Linked DNA regions of Homo sapiens: region 2 is linked to region 1. Evidence: fine-mapped expression QTL. Tissue or cell type: whole blood. Region 1 holds a variant in brackets; the other region holds the start of a gene. All regions are shown on one strand. Distances are from middle to middle.

Region 1 (8,184 bases):
TTAGCAAGAGCCCTGCTCAATGAGTGTATCCCCCACCTTCAATATCCGTTCACCCTCTGTATCTGCTCAGGTTCCTCATCATCCAGGGTAAGGCTCCAGTGCCATCCATGCTGTCCACACTCCAGTTCCATCCATCCCGTCCACACCCCAGTTCCATCCATCCCATCCACACCCCAGTGCAATCCATCCTGTCCACACTCCAGTTCCATCCATTCGTCCACATTCCAGTTCCATCCATCCCATCTGCACTCCAGTTCCATCCATTCCGTCCACACTCCAGTGCAATCCATCCCTTCCACAATCCAGTTCTGTCCATTCCGTCCACACCCCAGTGCAATCCATCCCGCCCACACTCCAGTTCCATCCCTTCGTCCACATTCCAGTTCCATCCTTCTCGTCCACACTCCAGTTCCATCCATCTCGTCCACACTCCAGTTCCATCCATCCCATCCACACCCCAGTGCAATCCATCCCGTCCACACCCCAGTTCCATCCATCCCATACACACCCCAGTGCCATCCATCCCGTCCATACTACAGTACCAGGCATCCTGTCCACCCTTCAGTGCCATCCATTCCATCCCCGTGCCTCCCCTGGCCACAGATGAGGGCTTTTCCCAGCACTTTTTCCCTCCATGGTCACAAGCTGCTGCTTTTTTCCTGAAAGAAAAACAATCCTAAATTTTGGGTTAATCATCTCCTTTTTTTTTTTTTACACAAAATTGTTTGACACCTGTAACTCCTATCCCTAAATAATATATTATTTACATTTGGCTTGTTTTGAACTTCATATAAATGAAATCATACTGAGTGTATTTTTCTATGACTTGTTTTTCCCCCAAATAACACTAACACATTTTTGAGAATCATCAATGTTTGATATTTGTAGCTAAAATACATTAAATTTTACTTCAATATTATATTTTATGGAGGTGCTATACATGACTCTGTAGAGACCAAGGGAAAACTTATCCTTTGTCCTCTGAAAGGACCCTGAAAATCAACTGGCAAAATGCAGAGTAGTAGGAAAAAACACCTACGAAATTTATTGTAATGTCCATAGCACAGGGGAATTGCAGGAGAATGATTACTCAGAAGGTGATGCACCTTCCTCCATAGATGAAAGAGAGAGGGAAGATAGATGATTTTTAGGGAGATTCAATGGGCTTGGAGAGCATACACCGGTCTTGAACAAAGTCTGTTGGGCCCCAGATCAGGTGTGTTGACAAAAGTCAGTCTTTCTGTAACATGAGTCAAGGTCATGAACACTCAGGCTGTTGTGTTTCCCTTTGGCAGGTCCTGTTTGTAGGTAGATAAGGGAACTTCAGGCAACAGCCTCATCCTGTGCTTCAGGAGAGACAGAAGATCCTGGGAGTCGGGAGGAAAGTCAGAGAGACCTTGAGGCTGCTTCATGTCAGAGCAAGCGCCGTGTTTCCGGGAAACAACTTATTCTTTCTGCTGTTGCTGGGTGTGGACATTGATTTCAGCTTTTTTGGTCCCATGAAACACACTGCTGTGTACATTCTTGTACATGTCTCTAGTTGCACATACGAGATCTTCTAGAGTATAGACTAACAGGTGGAAATGCTGGATTATAGGACACGAATGTGTCCAGTTGCACCAGCTAATGCCCGAATGACATTTTTGTACTGAACTTTCTTTTCTTTTTCTTTCTGGTATGTGGAATGTTTGCACTTTCTTGGTACAAATCTACTGTCAATCATGTGTTTTGCAATTATTCTGTCCCCCTTTGCAACATACTTTTTTCAGTTTCCCCACGGTTGCAGAACAGTGTTTCTCAATTTTAATGTAGTTAAAATCATCAGTGTATTGTGTCCTAGTTTGTACTTCTTGTGTCTTGTTTAAGAAATCTCTCCCCATCCCACAGGCATTAAAATATTTTCCTGTATTGACTTACAAAACTTGTGACTTTATCTTTCACATCTTAGCCTTTAATCCAAGTTGAATTAATTTTTGTATATGGTGGAAATTGGGATCAAATTTCATTTTTTACACTGAGAATAACCAGCACCATTTATTCAAACATCTAAGTGACAATTCTACTTCTTTCTTTTATTAAGCTATGGTACACAATTCTGTTTCCAGTCTCAATCTGTCCTATTTTATTTTATTTTATTTTATTTTATTTTATTTTATTTTATATTTTATTTTTGAGACAGAGTCTCCCTCTGTCACCTAGGCTGGAGTGCAGTGGTGCGATCTTGGCTCACTGCAGCCTCTGCCTCCCAGGTTCAAGCGATTCTCCTGCCTCAGCCTTCTGAGTAGCTGGGATTACAGGCATGCACCACCACTCCCAGCTAATTTTTGTATTTTTAGTAGAGACAGGGTTTCTCCATGTTGGCCAGGCTGGTCTCGAACTCCTGACCTGAGGTGATCCAGCTGCCTTGGCCTCCCAAAGTGCTGGGATTACAGGCGTGAGCTACCACGCCTGACTTCTGTCCCATTTTAAATGCAGTAGTTAGTTCAATGCTTCTTATCAAAAAAGAAAAATTAAAAATAAAGGAAGAAGAAAAAAAGGACCAAAGGAAAGGAGGAAAGGAGAGAGGGAGAGAAAAACAAAGAAAAAGAAAAGATGGGATTTTTACTAGAATTGAATTAATTTCCCTCTATTAGAATTTTACTGATTTTCTCATTTATCTTGAAGGGAGTCAATGTCTTTAAAAAAATTATATATATATATATATATATATATATATATATATATATATATATGGCCAGGCGCAGCGGCTCACGCCTGTAATCCCAGCATTTTGGGAGGCTGAGGCAGTCAGATCACCTGAGGTCAGGGGTTTGAGACCAGCCTGGCCAACACAGTGAAACCCCATCTCTACTAAAAACACAATCAGGCAGACGTGGTGGTGGGCACCTGTAATCCCAGCTACTCGGGAAGCTGAGGCAGGAGAGTTGCTTGAAGCCAGGAGGCAGAGGTTGCAGTGAGCTGAGATCATGCCATTGCACTCCAGCCTGGGAAACAGAGCAAGACTCCGTCTCAAAATAAAATAAAATAAAATAAAAATAAATGTGCAGTTCACACATAGACTACATCTCTACAAAATGTCAGGCCTTATTTAATTTTGTCTGAGACTTTTGTGATTTTCCACAAAAATGTGTTCTATACTTTGTCTTTGATTGATTACTTGCACTTTACGTTTTTTGACCTTATTGTAAATATTATATCTTTTATTATTCAAATGTTGAATGTTATCAGGTAATTTAAGTGAATCCATTCGGGAAATCATATGATTTTGCTCCTTTAATTTCTTACTATGGAGAAATACATAAACTGATTTCTATTGTTAAGCCGCCCTCTCATTCCTGGGGTAAACTCAACTCGGTGGCAAGAGAGATTTCTTTCTCCATGTTGTTGCAATCCTTTTGCTATTACTGAGATCTGTGTGTCTGTATTTATGGATGAGATTGTCCCTTTTATACCTTTTTCATAATGGAAGTGTCTTCTTTGACATTAATGCTATTCTACTATTGTATCAGTCTGTTTTCACACTGCTGAAAAAGACATACCCGAGACTGGGTAATTTATAAACAAAAAGAGGTTTCACATGTTCTCACTCATAAGTGGGAGTTGAACAGTGAGAACATAGGGACACAGGGAGGGGGGAACATCACACACTGGGGCCTGTTGGGGGACAAGGGGAGGGAGAGCATTAGGAGAAATAC[G/A]TAATACATGTGGGGCTTAAAACCTAGATGATGGGCTGATGGGTACAGCAAACCACCATGGCACGTGTATGCCTATGTAACAAACCTGCACATTCTGCACATGTATCCCAGGACTTAAAGTACCATAAAAAATAATAAAATAAAACAAAAAGAAAAAGGGATTTAATGGACTCGCAGTTCCATGCGGCTAGGGAGGCCTCACAATCATGCAGAAGGTGAAAGGCACATCTTACATGGTGGCAGGCAAGACAGAATGAGAAGCAAGTGAAAGGGCTTTCCCCTTATAAAACCATCAGACCTCATGAAACTTACTCAATGAGAACAGCATGGGGGAAATGGCCCCTATGATTCAATTATCTCCCACCAGGTCCCTCCCACAACACGTGGAAACTGTGGGACTACAATTCAACATGAGATGTGGGTGAGGACACAGCCAAACCAGATCAACTCTCTAGGTGCCTTAGTCCCTTAAAATGAGCTGGGAACAGTCACTGTGCATAGGATGACACGTGTGTCTTTTGTTCCATAAATGTTTGGTCAAACTTGCCTTTTAAAAAGCTGAGTCTTGTGCTTTCTTTATGAAAAGAATTTTTATCTCTGATTCAATTTCATCAATGGAGAATTGACCCATTACTATTATTTTTTTCACCTCTGCTTCAGTCAGATCTGTTGTCTTTCCTGTGATTTATCTATTCAACCTAATTTTAAATGTTATTCATGTGAAATGATTCACATTATTGTGTTATCTTTTTAATTTTGGCTGCTTCTAAAGCTATGACCCTTTTCATTCCTAAAAATGTGTACTGTGGGCTGGGCGTGGTGGCTCACACCTATAATCCCAGCACTTTGGGAGGCTGAAGCGGGTGGATCACCTGAGGACAGGAGTTCGAGACCAGCCTTGCCAACATGGCAAAACCCCATCTCTATTAAAAATACAAAAAAAAATAATTAGCCAGGCGTGGTGGTGGGCGTCTGTAATAATCCCAGCTACTCCAGAGGCTGAGGCAGCAGAATTGCTTGAACCTGGGAGGCAGAGGTTGCAGTGATCTGAGATCGCACCACTGCACACCAGCCTGGGCAACAGAGCGAGACTCAAAAAAAAAAATAGTCTGTACTGTGGTTTAGCCTTGTTTCCTTGCCCAGTCTTCATGGGAATTTGTAATTCCATCGCTCTTCTCAAAGAGCCACCACGCAACTCAGTTGGTCTTCATTTGCAAGTTCATTGATTTCTATCTTATTTTCTTCATATTACTTTGATTTTCATTCAATTCTATTTCTTTATTTATACACTACTTTTTTGGTTATTAATATTTTAAGTAAATATCAACTTATTTAATTATATGATATTAAATTATTCTGTAGAAAAACATGCTCTTTCTTTCCATTTATTCCGACCATTGTTATTTTATAAAGTTTGTTGGCTGGTACTTTTATGTATTTTTGAATTAAAATGCAGTAGAATGGATTTTAGAACATGTATGTACGGTTATGAGTCTTAAGCAACCAGACCATCAGGATGCAGGGAAGCCCTTCCGTCGCCACGAACGTCTCCCTGACATCACCCTTCATAGTTACGCCCTCCTCGCTCCCTAATCCATTCTCGCCACCATCATCATCCTTCTCAAGAGTGTCATACAAAGAGAAGTTTAGGATATGTAAGCTTTCAAGGCTGGTTTCTTTCACTCAGCATAATTCTTTTGAATTATTCCAAGTCGTTGTCTGTATCGATATCGCACCTGTCATTCCAGCTGAGTGGCATGCATTGCATGATGCCAGTGTGTGGGTTCCACCGCGTTCCATCAGGGTATCCCTGAGTATGGATTACAGTTCATCAATTCCCTTGGTGACAGGCATTTGGATTGTTGCCGGTATCGGGCTATGGATAGAGCTTCCATAAGCATTATGCACATTTTTATATGAATATGCATTTCATCTCTTTTGGATAAACACTCGAAAGAGGTATCGAGGGGCACATGTCTGTTTAACTTTCTAAGAAACTGCAAACTGATTTTTACTAGGTTGGTGAAAAAGTAATTGTGGTTTTTGCATTAAAAGTACTTTTAATGGCAACATTTCATTTTATAAAATAAAAATAATCTGAACAAAAAGAAAGGAAGAAAGAAAGAAAGAAAGAAAGAAGAAAAAGAAAGAAAGAAAGAAAGAAAGAAAGAAAGAAAGAAAGAAAGAAAGAAAGAAAGAAAGAAAGAAAGAAAGAGGGAGGGAGGAAGGAAGGAAGGAAGGAAAGAAGGCTTTTTTTTTTTTTTTTTTTTTTTTTTTTTTTTTTTTTTTTGAGACAGAGACTCGCCCTGTCGCCCAGGCTGGAGTGCTACGGCGCAATCTTGGCTCACTGCAACCTCCGCTTCCCGGGTTCAAGCAATTCTCTGCCTCAGCCTCCCAAGTAGCTGGGATTACAGGTGCCCACCACCATGCCTAGCTAGTTTTTGTATTTTTAGTAGAGATGGGGTTTCACCAACTTGGCCAGGCTGGTCTTGAACTCCTGACCTTGTGATCTGCCCACCTCAGCCTCCCAAAGTGCTAGATTACAGGTGTGAGCCACCGCACCCTGTGGAAGGAAGGACCTTTAATGGCAAAAACCGCAATTACTTTTGCACAGCCTAACCACATGGCTATCCCATGTCGCCCTCTCAGCAGCCCCACATGGTGATTCTAGGCATATCCTTGAGCACTGAGAACCAGTGGTTTCCATGTTAGCCGTGCGCACCACGCGCTGTGGTACCTCAACCTGGCTTAACTAGCACTTACCTAATGCCCAATTATGTCGAACGTCTTGTCAGGTGCTTTTGTGCCACCTGCATACCTGCTTTGCTGAAGTTTCTGGTCAAGTGTTTTGCCCATTTTTAAATTGTGTTGTTTGTTTTCTTACTGTTGAGCTTCCAGCTTTTTTTATGTATTCTGGACACAAGTATTTGTCAGATATGTGGTTTGCAAATATCTTCTCCCGGTCTGTAACTTGTCTTTTCACCCACTTAACTGCATCTTTGAAAAAGCAATAGCTATTAATATTGATAATTTTCCATTTTTTCTTATTTTTATTTGTATTTATTATACATATATATTTGAGACAGAGTCTCGCTCTGTCACCATGTTGGAGTGCAGTGGCATGATCTTGGCTCACTGTAACTTCTGCATCCCGGGTTCAAGTGATTCTCCTGCCTCAGCCTTACGAGTAGCTGGGATTACAGTTGAGTGCCACCACGCCCGGCTAATTCTTGTATTTTTAGTAGAGACGGGGTTTCACCATGTTGTCCAGGATGGTCTCAATCTCTTGACCTTGGGATCTGCCCGTCTCAGCCTCCCAAAGTCCTGGGATTACAGGCGTGAGCCACAACACCTGGCCTCCATTGTTCATTTATTGACTTTTAGGAATCACGCTTTTGGTGCCGAGTCTAAGTACTTTTTGTTTAACCTGGTCACAAAACTTTTCTCCCATATTTTATTTTAAAAATGTTAGTTTTACTTTTCACATTTAGGTCTACGGTGTATTTGGGGTTAACTTAGGCAGAAGGTGTGAAGCTTAGATCAGAGTTTACTTTTTGGTAAATGAACATCCAATTGTCCCAACATCTTTTGTTGAAAGACTATTATTTTCCATCGAATGCCTTTGTGCCATTGTTATCGATTGGTCACATCTCTGTCGATCTATTTCTGGGCTCTCTATTCTGTTCCATTGATCTACATGTTTATCTCTTCACCAATATGACACAATCTTCATGACTGAAGCCCAAAGCAAGTCTTAATAATAAGGTCGTACCATTCCTCCTAATTCATTTTTTTGTTCAAAATTGTTTAGCCTATTCTACTTGGGTTTTTTTTTTCCTATGTAAATTTTAGAACCAGCTTCCCTATGTCTACAAAAAAAATTTTTGCTGGAATTTTAATGACTTAATTTATATCTGTGGATAAGTTAAGGGGAAACTGACATTTTCTTATACTGAATTTTTCAACTTATTAACACAGTATATCTCTTCATTTATGAGGTCTTCTTTGATTATTTTTATCTGTATTTTCTAATTCTTACCACAAAGATTCTGTATGTTTCATTAGATTGATTCCTAAGAATCTCCTTTTGAGCTATTGTAAATGGCATTGTTTCATTAATTTCAGACTTCAGTTGTTCATTGCTGGTATATAGAAACATAACTTACTCTTATTCTTGTTATTTTCCTTCCACTTGATTTTGGTTTGTTTTCTCTCATCTGTTTCTCATTTCTTAAAGTTAAAGCTTGTGTCATTGATTTTAGACCCTTTTCCTTCCTACCGTGAGTGAAGAACACTTTACATAGAGAAAACATACTCTATGTTCCTTCCTGGCACCACTTTAGCTATGTTCTATACATTTGGATATCACAAATTTTCATTTTTTTTTAGGTCAGGATTTTGTTTTGTTTTGTTTTTTTGAGATGGAGTCTCGCTCTGTCACCCAGGCTGGAGTGCAGTGGTGCAATCTCAGCTCTCTGCAACCTCCACC
Region 2 (8,184 bases), 74 kb before region 1:
CATGCACGTCCACAATCCATGTTCCTATGCACCTGTTCCTGCCCATGCAGGTTCATGCACACATATTCCCTGCAAATGTTTGTCAGGCACCTGCCAGGTGCCTCATGCTGTTCCAGGTGCTGGGATTGAGCCATGAACACCTGATACAGACAATGTCCCTATTCTTACAGATCTCGTATTCTAGGTGTCCCTGTTCTTACAGATCTCATATTCTAGAGACTAGAGATGGAGAGATGGTGACAAATGAGCAAACACATGTATACTACATTAGGAGAATGTGTGAGTCCATTCTCACACTGCTAATAAAGACATACCCGAGACTGGGTAATTTATGGAGGAAAGACGTTTGATTGACTCACAGTTCAGCATGGCTGGAGGGGTCTCAGGAAACTTCCAATCATGGCAGAAGGGGAAGCAAACACATCCTTCTTCATGTGGCGGCAGCGAGGAGAAGTGCCGAGAAAAAGGGGGAAAAGCCCCTTATAAAACCATCAGATCTCACGAGAACTCACTAACACGAGAACCGCAGCATCTGGGTAACCACCCCCATGATTCAATTATCTCCCACGGGGTACCTCGAACAATACGTGGGGATTTATGGGAACTACAATTCAAGATGAGATTTGGGTGGGGACGCCAGCAAACCATATCAGAGGGCTAAGTGCTGAGAAGGAGGGAGGGAGGAGAGCAGATGTGGGCATACAGATGTGAGAGGCATACCTTAACCAAGTGTCAAGAGAAGGCCTGCCGCATCAGAGCTTTCAGTCAGAGCCCTCCAGTAGGAGAGTGAATTCTGTGCACAGCTAGGAAACATCTCAGCGGCAGAGACAGGGAGCACGGGGTCCTGTCCAGATGTCCACACTGCACGGATGCGCACACACGGTGAACAAGGGTCTGTGCATGCTCACACAGCGAACCAGCACATCTACCCAGATGCGCACATCTGTGCATGTACACTGGGCACAGGACTCTGCATCCAGATACAAGCGTGTGCACAGAGACGCACAGGAGGCAGATGCACGTGCAGAGGATGAGAACCTGAGCCCACGGACCAGGCCAGCCCAGCCTCCGTGTTGGGCAGCAGCCCCCACGTCCTCAGGCGCTGCTGGGCAGTAACAGAGGCACCAGGTAAATCTTTATCTGGTGGAAAGGCAGCATCTCATTTGACCTTTGAAAAAACGAAACATTCCAAGCCCAGGGAAAAGTGAATAATCTATAAAACAGTGACTCCCTACCACTCAGATTTAGTCATTTTTGAAATATTTGCTTTAAATATTTTCCTAAGAAATAAAACCTTGCAAATGTAGTTGAAGGACTCACCTCATATCCCTGAAGGCTGCCATGGTCTCCACCTGGTGCCCCAGACCCTCTGAGATTTTCCAAAAGTTCACGTGTAGCCGGCCTCCCTCCCTTTCCTTTTCCCAAATTCTAACACATGTGTGTGTTCGTAAGCCAGGCGGAGTTAGATTTTCTGTGTTTTACTAAACAGACAAATCATGTTGCAGGTTTCATTGTACACCTTGCTTTAACAAATGTGTCTTTGATATTGATCCAAATTGTTACACAGAGATGCAGCCCATTCATTTTAACTTCTTTGTAACTTTCCATCGGAGGGATAAGCTACATCCATTCTGGGTTTCTGTTTTCTTTATGACAACCAATTCTTCTTTCGGCACTTGGCTTGATACACGTGAGTGAGATGTTGTCAACTCTTCTCCAAAATGTCCTTGCACATTTACAATCTCATCTCCTGCAGGCTCCTGCGGTTTCCCTGCTCCGTCAACAACGGGTATTGTGGAACTTTGTACTTTTAGAAATCCCATGGATACAATGCGGCATCTCATTACAGTTTTAATTTTCTTGATTAACAGTGTGGGGGAACATATTTTCTGTGCTTGTTAACTAGCTCTTCAAGCTCCCTGGTTTATAATGATCTGTCCTTGTCCTTCACTCAGGCTCCTGTAGAGGAGACGAAATCATTTTTCTTAATGATTCATAGCAATGCTGTGTATGTTTTGAATATGAGTTTTTGTTTTTCATATGTGTCACAAATATCTTCTGGATCTGTGGCTTTCATTTTCCTCAGAACATGCTCTGTGATACAGGAGATTTATTTTTCATGTGGTCGTTTTAAAATTGATTTTTGGCCCAGCACGGTGGCTCACGCCTGTAATCCCAGCACTTTGGGAGACCGAGGCAGGCGGATCACCTGAGGTCAGGGGTTCAAGACCAGCCTGGTCAACACGGTGAAACTGCGTCTCTACTAAAAATATAAAAATTAGCCAGTCGTGGTGGCGGGCGCCTATAATCCCAGCTACTCGGGAGACTGAGGCAGGAGAATCGCTTGAACCCGGGAGGCGGAGGTTGCAATGAGCCGAGATCAAGCCATTGCACTCTAACCTGGACGACAGAGTGGGATTCCATCTCAATCAATCAATCAATCAATTTTTACTTTTCGGATTGTGTATAAGAAACTCTTTCTGTTCTTAGGTCGTAAAGACCGTCTCCATCGCTTCTTCCGTTCGTGCGGTGGCCTCTCCTCTCACCATGGTGGCCTGGAGGCACCCAGATTTCTCTGGCCACGCGGCGCTCCAAGTCAGGAGTCAGCGCACAAGCCACGCGCGGACACCAGAACAGCCTGGAGGAAAAGCAGCCTCGTTCTGTTACCTTCTGCTGGTTACCCAGAGCCCGGTCCCTGCAGCCTGTGGGGAGAGACACAGACCCCCACTCTGCATCCGGGCGGAGTCACCCAGCGTTTACCCGCGTGTATTTCAAACTGCCGCAAGGACTACGTTTACTTTTCTCGCCCTGCTTCCGTGTTCTGCCATTTTTGAGGTCTCCACCACGGTCCCCTGGCCCCGGCCTAGACCCGGGCCTTTCCCCAGGGGTCCTGCTCCTCCGTGGCCCTGGACCGCTTGGCCCCTGTGCTCCTCTTTCCCTGGCTCCAGGATGCAGCCAGCTTCTCTTCAAGAAACTCAACCCCGGCTTGTGTTACCCCGAGGGTGTTTCCAGGCGTGCGAGGGGTGTGAGGGGTGGGACTGCACAGCGCGTCCCAGCCTCGGTCCCGGGCCCGGCCCCGGCAGACTCTGGAGAAGCCCAGGAGCGCGTGTCCCCGCCGGCCCCGCTCAGCCTGACCTGCTTTTCCCCACAGAGGTGCCGGGGTTCGGTGCAGTCTGGCCGTGTCCTCCTCTTCTCGCGGTTTCAGATTCTTCTTGCGTGACATTTTATCACACAAGACCGTGTTCGGGGATGGGGTGTTCTGAGCACGCCCTTACCGAGCCAGGCTCACCCAGTTCCCCATCTAGAGCTCCCTGCTGGCATCTCTCACCTGGGACCCCAGCCTGCAAGACTCCGACACCCACGCCCTTAGGGTGATGTGGCCGCGCCCAGCCTGCGCTCAGCACCACGGGAGGGAGGGCGGCAGGCGGAAGCCCCGGCCATCTTGGGAAGGGCCTTTTGGGACCGTGTGTTCCGCTGAGAACCACAGACCCATGCTTCAGACGCTACAGATTTCTCTCTCAAATGCCTGGATTCAAAATATAAAAGTGTGTTTGAGCAAACAGCAAAATATTTGGGAAATTCTCCCAGCGAGGCTTCTAATGACCCCGTAGGAAAAGCCAGGCTGCTCCCTGCTGCGCCTCCAGCGAACTTCCCACCGGGCAGGACTCTGGGAAGAAGAGCAAAGGGTTCTATTTTGCGTAGAATTTAAATAAAATTGCTTCACAGACGGGAAACGTCAAGCAAGCAGCACTCTGAGCCCATGCGTGCTTTTAATGCCTGAATGACATCGCAATTCAGTCTGAGTTCCCGCCTGGGCTCAGGGCCTTCTGAACTGCCGGGGGCTGTGAAATGGTTTATAATCAGAAGAGAAGCAGTGAGAGTTTAGATCCAAGATCCAAGGAAGTGTTTTCAGACTCAGTGTTAGCACATTTGTGTCTATACCAGTCCAGGCAGGAGGCTGAGGCAGAAGAATCGCTTGAACCCAGAAGGCAGAGGTTGCAGTGAGCCGAGATCGTGCCACTGCACTCCAGCCTGGGCAACAGAGCGAGACTCCATCTCAAAAAAAAAAAAAAAAAAAAAAAAACCACCATCAGATCTCGTGAGAAAGTACTGTCAGAATAGCCTGGGGGAAAACCACCCCCATGATTTAGTTACCTCCCACTGGCTCCCTCCCATGACACATGGGGATTATGGGAGCTACAATTCAAGATGAGATTTGGGTGAGGACACGGCCAAACCATATCAGGCTTCCACCCTCATAAACAGATTAATGTCATTATCGAGAGAGTGGGTTTGTTACCTCAAGAGTGGGGTTTCTAAAGTGAGCCTGGCCTCTCCTGCTCGGACTCAGGCCCTGGCTCCTGCCCTCCATCCTTCTCCCATGGGATGACCTTTGCCAGATGCCAGCACCATTGTCCTGGACTTTGTAGTCTCCAGAACTGCGAATGAAATAAATCTCATTTCTTTATAAATTACCCAGCCGGTGGCATTTCATTACAGCAGCAGAAAACAGAATAAGACAGTGGTCCTCTCTGTTATTTCTTGGTGTCTGTTTTTATGAATTTAAGGACATAATTATAGATTTTCTATTCATTAGCTTCTTTAGGTTTATTCTGTTATTCTCTGATGTTTTAAGTCAAGCTTTATTTTAAAGTTTTTCTTACTTCCTACATATGTTAAAGGTGACACATTTTCATGTAAATGAGGGATTTCTGCTAACCGTAGCTTACGGGAACAGAGCCACACCTCTTCATTTTCATACTGCCTGTGTTCGCTTTCTGACCAATCCAGCAGAGAAGAGGAGATGCAACAGAGACTATCCCACAAAGCCAAATATATTTTTATTTTTGTTTGTAAAAAATATTAGTAATAATATTTTTAAATGGGAAATGATCATCATCTGCACTTGTGAAATGCCATGTGGTATTTGGATGTATGTGCAAAACATGGAGTGATTAATTAAAGCCAATTAATATATCCATTGATTCTCTTAGTTATTTTGAAATATACAACACATTATTGTTAACCAGAGTCACCTGCTTTGCAGTAGGTCTCAAGCATGCTACTACCTGCCCCTCCACAAGACAGTTTTGCTAGTCACCTGCTTTGCAATAGGCCTCAAGCACACTACTACCTGCCCCTCCACAGAGACAGTTTGCTGACCCTTCCTAGGTGAAGCATTCTCTGCATTCACTCCAGAAGTCTCAATATGCAGCATTTATGTGGTCATTGTGTTTCAAATATTTTCAAATTTTGATTGTAATCTTCCTTGATTTACGATTCCTTCAGAAATAGGTTTTTATGGTTCCATATTTATGGGGCTGTTTTTCTCATTATTTCTAATTTCGATATGTGGAGTTCAGAGAATGTAGTCCATAAATACTTATTTTTTTAGTAATTGTTGGAATTTTTCTAAATGTCTCATGAATGCTTGATTCTTAGGTTCACAGATTTGAAGCAGCTATTATAGAAAACTTATTAATTATCTTGACAAGAATCCTTCGCTACTAATTTTGGGTCTGTGTAGCCACTTTAGGATTGATAGTTGTGTCGAACACTCTCATCATGATTTTGTATTCGTGTTTTTCTCCTTGAGTTTTTATCCATTGCATCCATTTGAAATTATGTTAATATACTAAGTTTCACAATTATGCTATGACCCTGATAAATAATTTCGTTTCTCGTGATGCAGTGGCTCTCTTTATTCTTGATAATGTGGTTTGATTTAATATCTATTTGTCTGGTATAATCGGGCGATTCCAGCCTTGCTTGGGTTAGTGTTTTTCTCATACTTTCTGTATCTTGCTTTCATTCTTTCCATGTTATGTTCTTTTTGATATGTCTCTTGTCAACAATGCATGTTTTACATATGTGTAGACACCTGGGGAGGTAGATTTCCTATATTTTCTCTAATAAATTTCTTTACTTGCATTTCTTTTAGTTAACAATGTATTAAATTCAGTTATGCAACCTTACTTAGGGCTTTGTACTACCCGTACTTCTAAGACGTCGCTCTCTTGAGCTTTTTACTGGTTTAGGTAGTATACATCATTTCTATTCTTTAAGCAATTACACCTAAATTTCATAATATCTACACTAAACCTATCAACATCTAAATGTACCTAGTAACTTTAACTCCCTCTACAACTATACAAAACCTACACAACATGTTAACTCCAACAATCTCCTTCCCATTTTACAAGGTTTCTCTGTTGAGGTTTCATAGAGGGCCAATGAAAAACTCCATTCTGACCCGTGCTCAAGCTGAGCCAATTTAAAAATAAGACAAAATTAATGCTTATTAAAAGAAAGCTTGAAGGTAATTCCTGGAGAACTTGTGACACGTTTGGAAAAGGTTGAAGGACTGGAGCTGGGTGGGCTGGTGGCTTTCAGAAAAGATGTGGGACACGTAAAGTGAGACAGGGCCAGGGACAGGAGAGGAGTCTCCTGCTTCTCTGAAAGTCCTTCTCCGTTTCATCCATGTTGAGTAAGTGCCATCATGTCTGGGCACTCAGGACACAATGGTGAATGAGAGTGCCCCGGCCCTGTCTCCTGGAAGCTGGGGTTGATGGGGACCTCCCAACTGCAGGCCAGCGGTGCCCTGCCCTCTACTGAGCATAGGGACACGGGGTTCTGGTCTCCTTAGCACCCAGGCTGACCCCTCTACAGGAGCCTCTGTGATGAGGACCAGGGACGGCACCTGCATCACTCTCAAAGGGAAATTCATCTCACTCCCTCCATCCCTCCCTTCTCTCTCCTTCCCACCCTCCCTCTCTTCCTTCCTCTCTCTCTCTCTTCCTCCCTCTCTCTCTCTCTTCCTCCCTCTTCCTTCCTCCCTTCCTCTGCCCCCTCCACCCTACCCTCCCTCCCTCCCTTTCTTTCTCTCCATCTATTATGGACTGAATGATTGTGAATCCCCAGATCCCTCTGTTGAAGCCCTAATCGCAGTGTAACGCTATTTGTGGATGGGGCCTTTGGAAGGTGATGAGGTCATGAACCCTCACGAATAGGATTAGTGACCTTGGAATAAGAGACACAAGATAAATGATTCCCTTCTGCCACTGAGGACACAACGAGAAGGCGCCATCTCCAAGCCAGGAAGGGGGCCCTCAGCAGACACCGAGTCAGCACCGTGATGATCCTGGGCTTCCCAGACACCACACCTGAGAGAAATAAATGCCTAGTGTTTCAGCCCCCAGTCTATGGTAATTAGTGATTGCAGCTCAAACTAAGACACCCTTCGCCTTGACATAACCATAGCGACACTTTGGATAAAACTTCCTTCATTTTGGATGTGACTCTGGACACTTCCTGGTCTTCGTACACTGCAGACATGAAGTGTCATCCAGCGGCATGTGCTGGACTGGGGCACCCTTGGTGTTGCCTTCATACACTGCAGACATGAAGTGTCATCCAGCTGCATGTGCTGGGCTGGGGCACCCTTGGTGTTGTCTTCATACACTGCAGACATGAAGTGTCATCCAGCTGCATGTGCTGGGCTGGGGCACCCTTGGTGTTGTCTGCTGTCACACTGGGAGCCTGGACCCTGCGGGCAGGGCTCACAGAGGTTGCAGGGCCATCCTCTCGTGGAAAATGTCTCTAGACTGCTTTACTTTTTTGATCCTTAATAAAATAAAATACACTTTCTTAGCTCCCTATTCTTGCATACTTTTTCCTGGGGAACCCAAGGACCCAGCAGGTTAGAAACACAGGGTGGTCAGCTTGATGCTCCAGGAGGCAGCCTCCAGGGGGGCTGCTGTGGGCAGTTCCTCCACAGCTCACACTCTGCAGAAGCCGGGTGAGTGTCCCTCCTAAATACTCCGGAGCAGGGTGCTCCTGGCCCTGACCATGGCATCATGGCCCTAGGATTGGGTGAGTGCTCCTCGTCAACGCTCCAGAATAGGGCGCTCCTGCCCCTGACTATGGCATCATGGCCCTAGGATCAGCCTTTCACTCAATCTTGGACAACGAGTTTTTCTTCCAATGTGGTTTAGCCTTGGTGGTGAATGTTGTTGCTCCAGCAGCCAAAACTGAAGGTGCAAATGCAGGAACAGTCAGCCCCACCCTGCTGTGTGTGAGGATGATGCTGCCCTGTGCAGTGAAGAAAGCAGGGTGCTGCTGGAAGCCAAGGCTGAAGGTGGCTTTGTGTCTGGATCCAGCTGTTCCTGAAGCTGCCTGTATTCC

The links. PIP is the estimated chance that this variant, and not a neighbour inherited with it, causes the effect.
Region 2: it holds the start of NHIP, and the variant in region 1 is fine-mapped to the expression of NHIP in whole blood (INTERVAL, PIP 0.98).

The regions. Positions count from the first base shown.
Region 1 is chr22:49,123,524-49,131,707 of GRCh38, forward strand. No RefSeq gene overlaps it. Among named protein-coding and RNA genes, the nearest start is that of NHIP, 75 kb to the left of the region's middle. The variant G/A (reference allele first, on the strand shown) is at 3,696.
Region 2 is chr22:49,049,036-49,057,219 of GRCh38, forward strand. NHIP (neuronal hypoxia inducible, placenta associated) reads right to left here and starts at 3,350. Exons shown (of 4, transcript NR_183584.1): 1 at 1,321-3,350; 2 at 721-1,168; 3 at 360-428. RefSeq lists an enhancer at 3,317-3,396.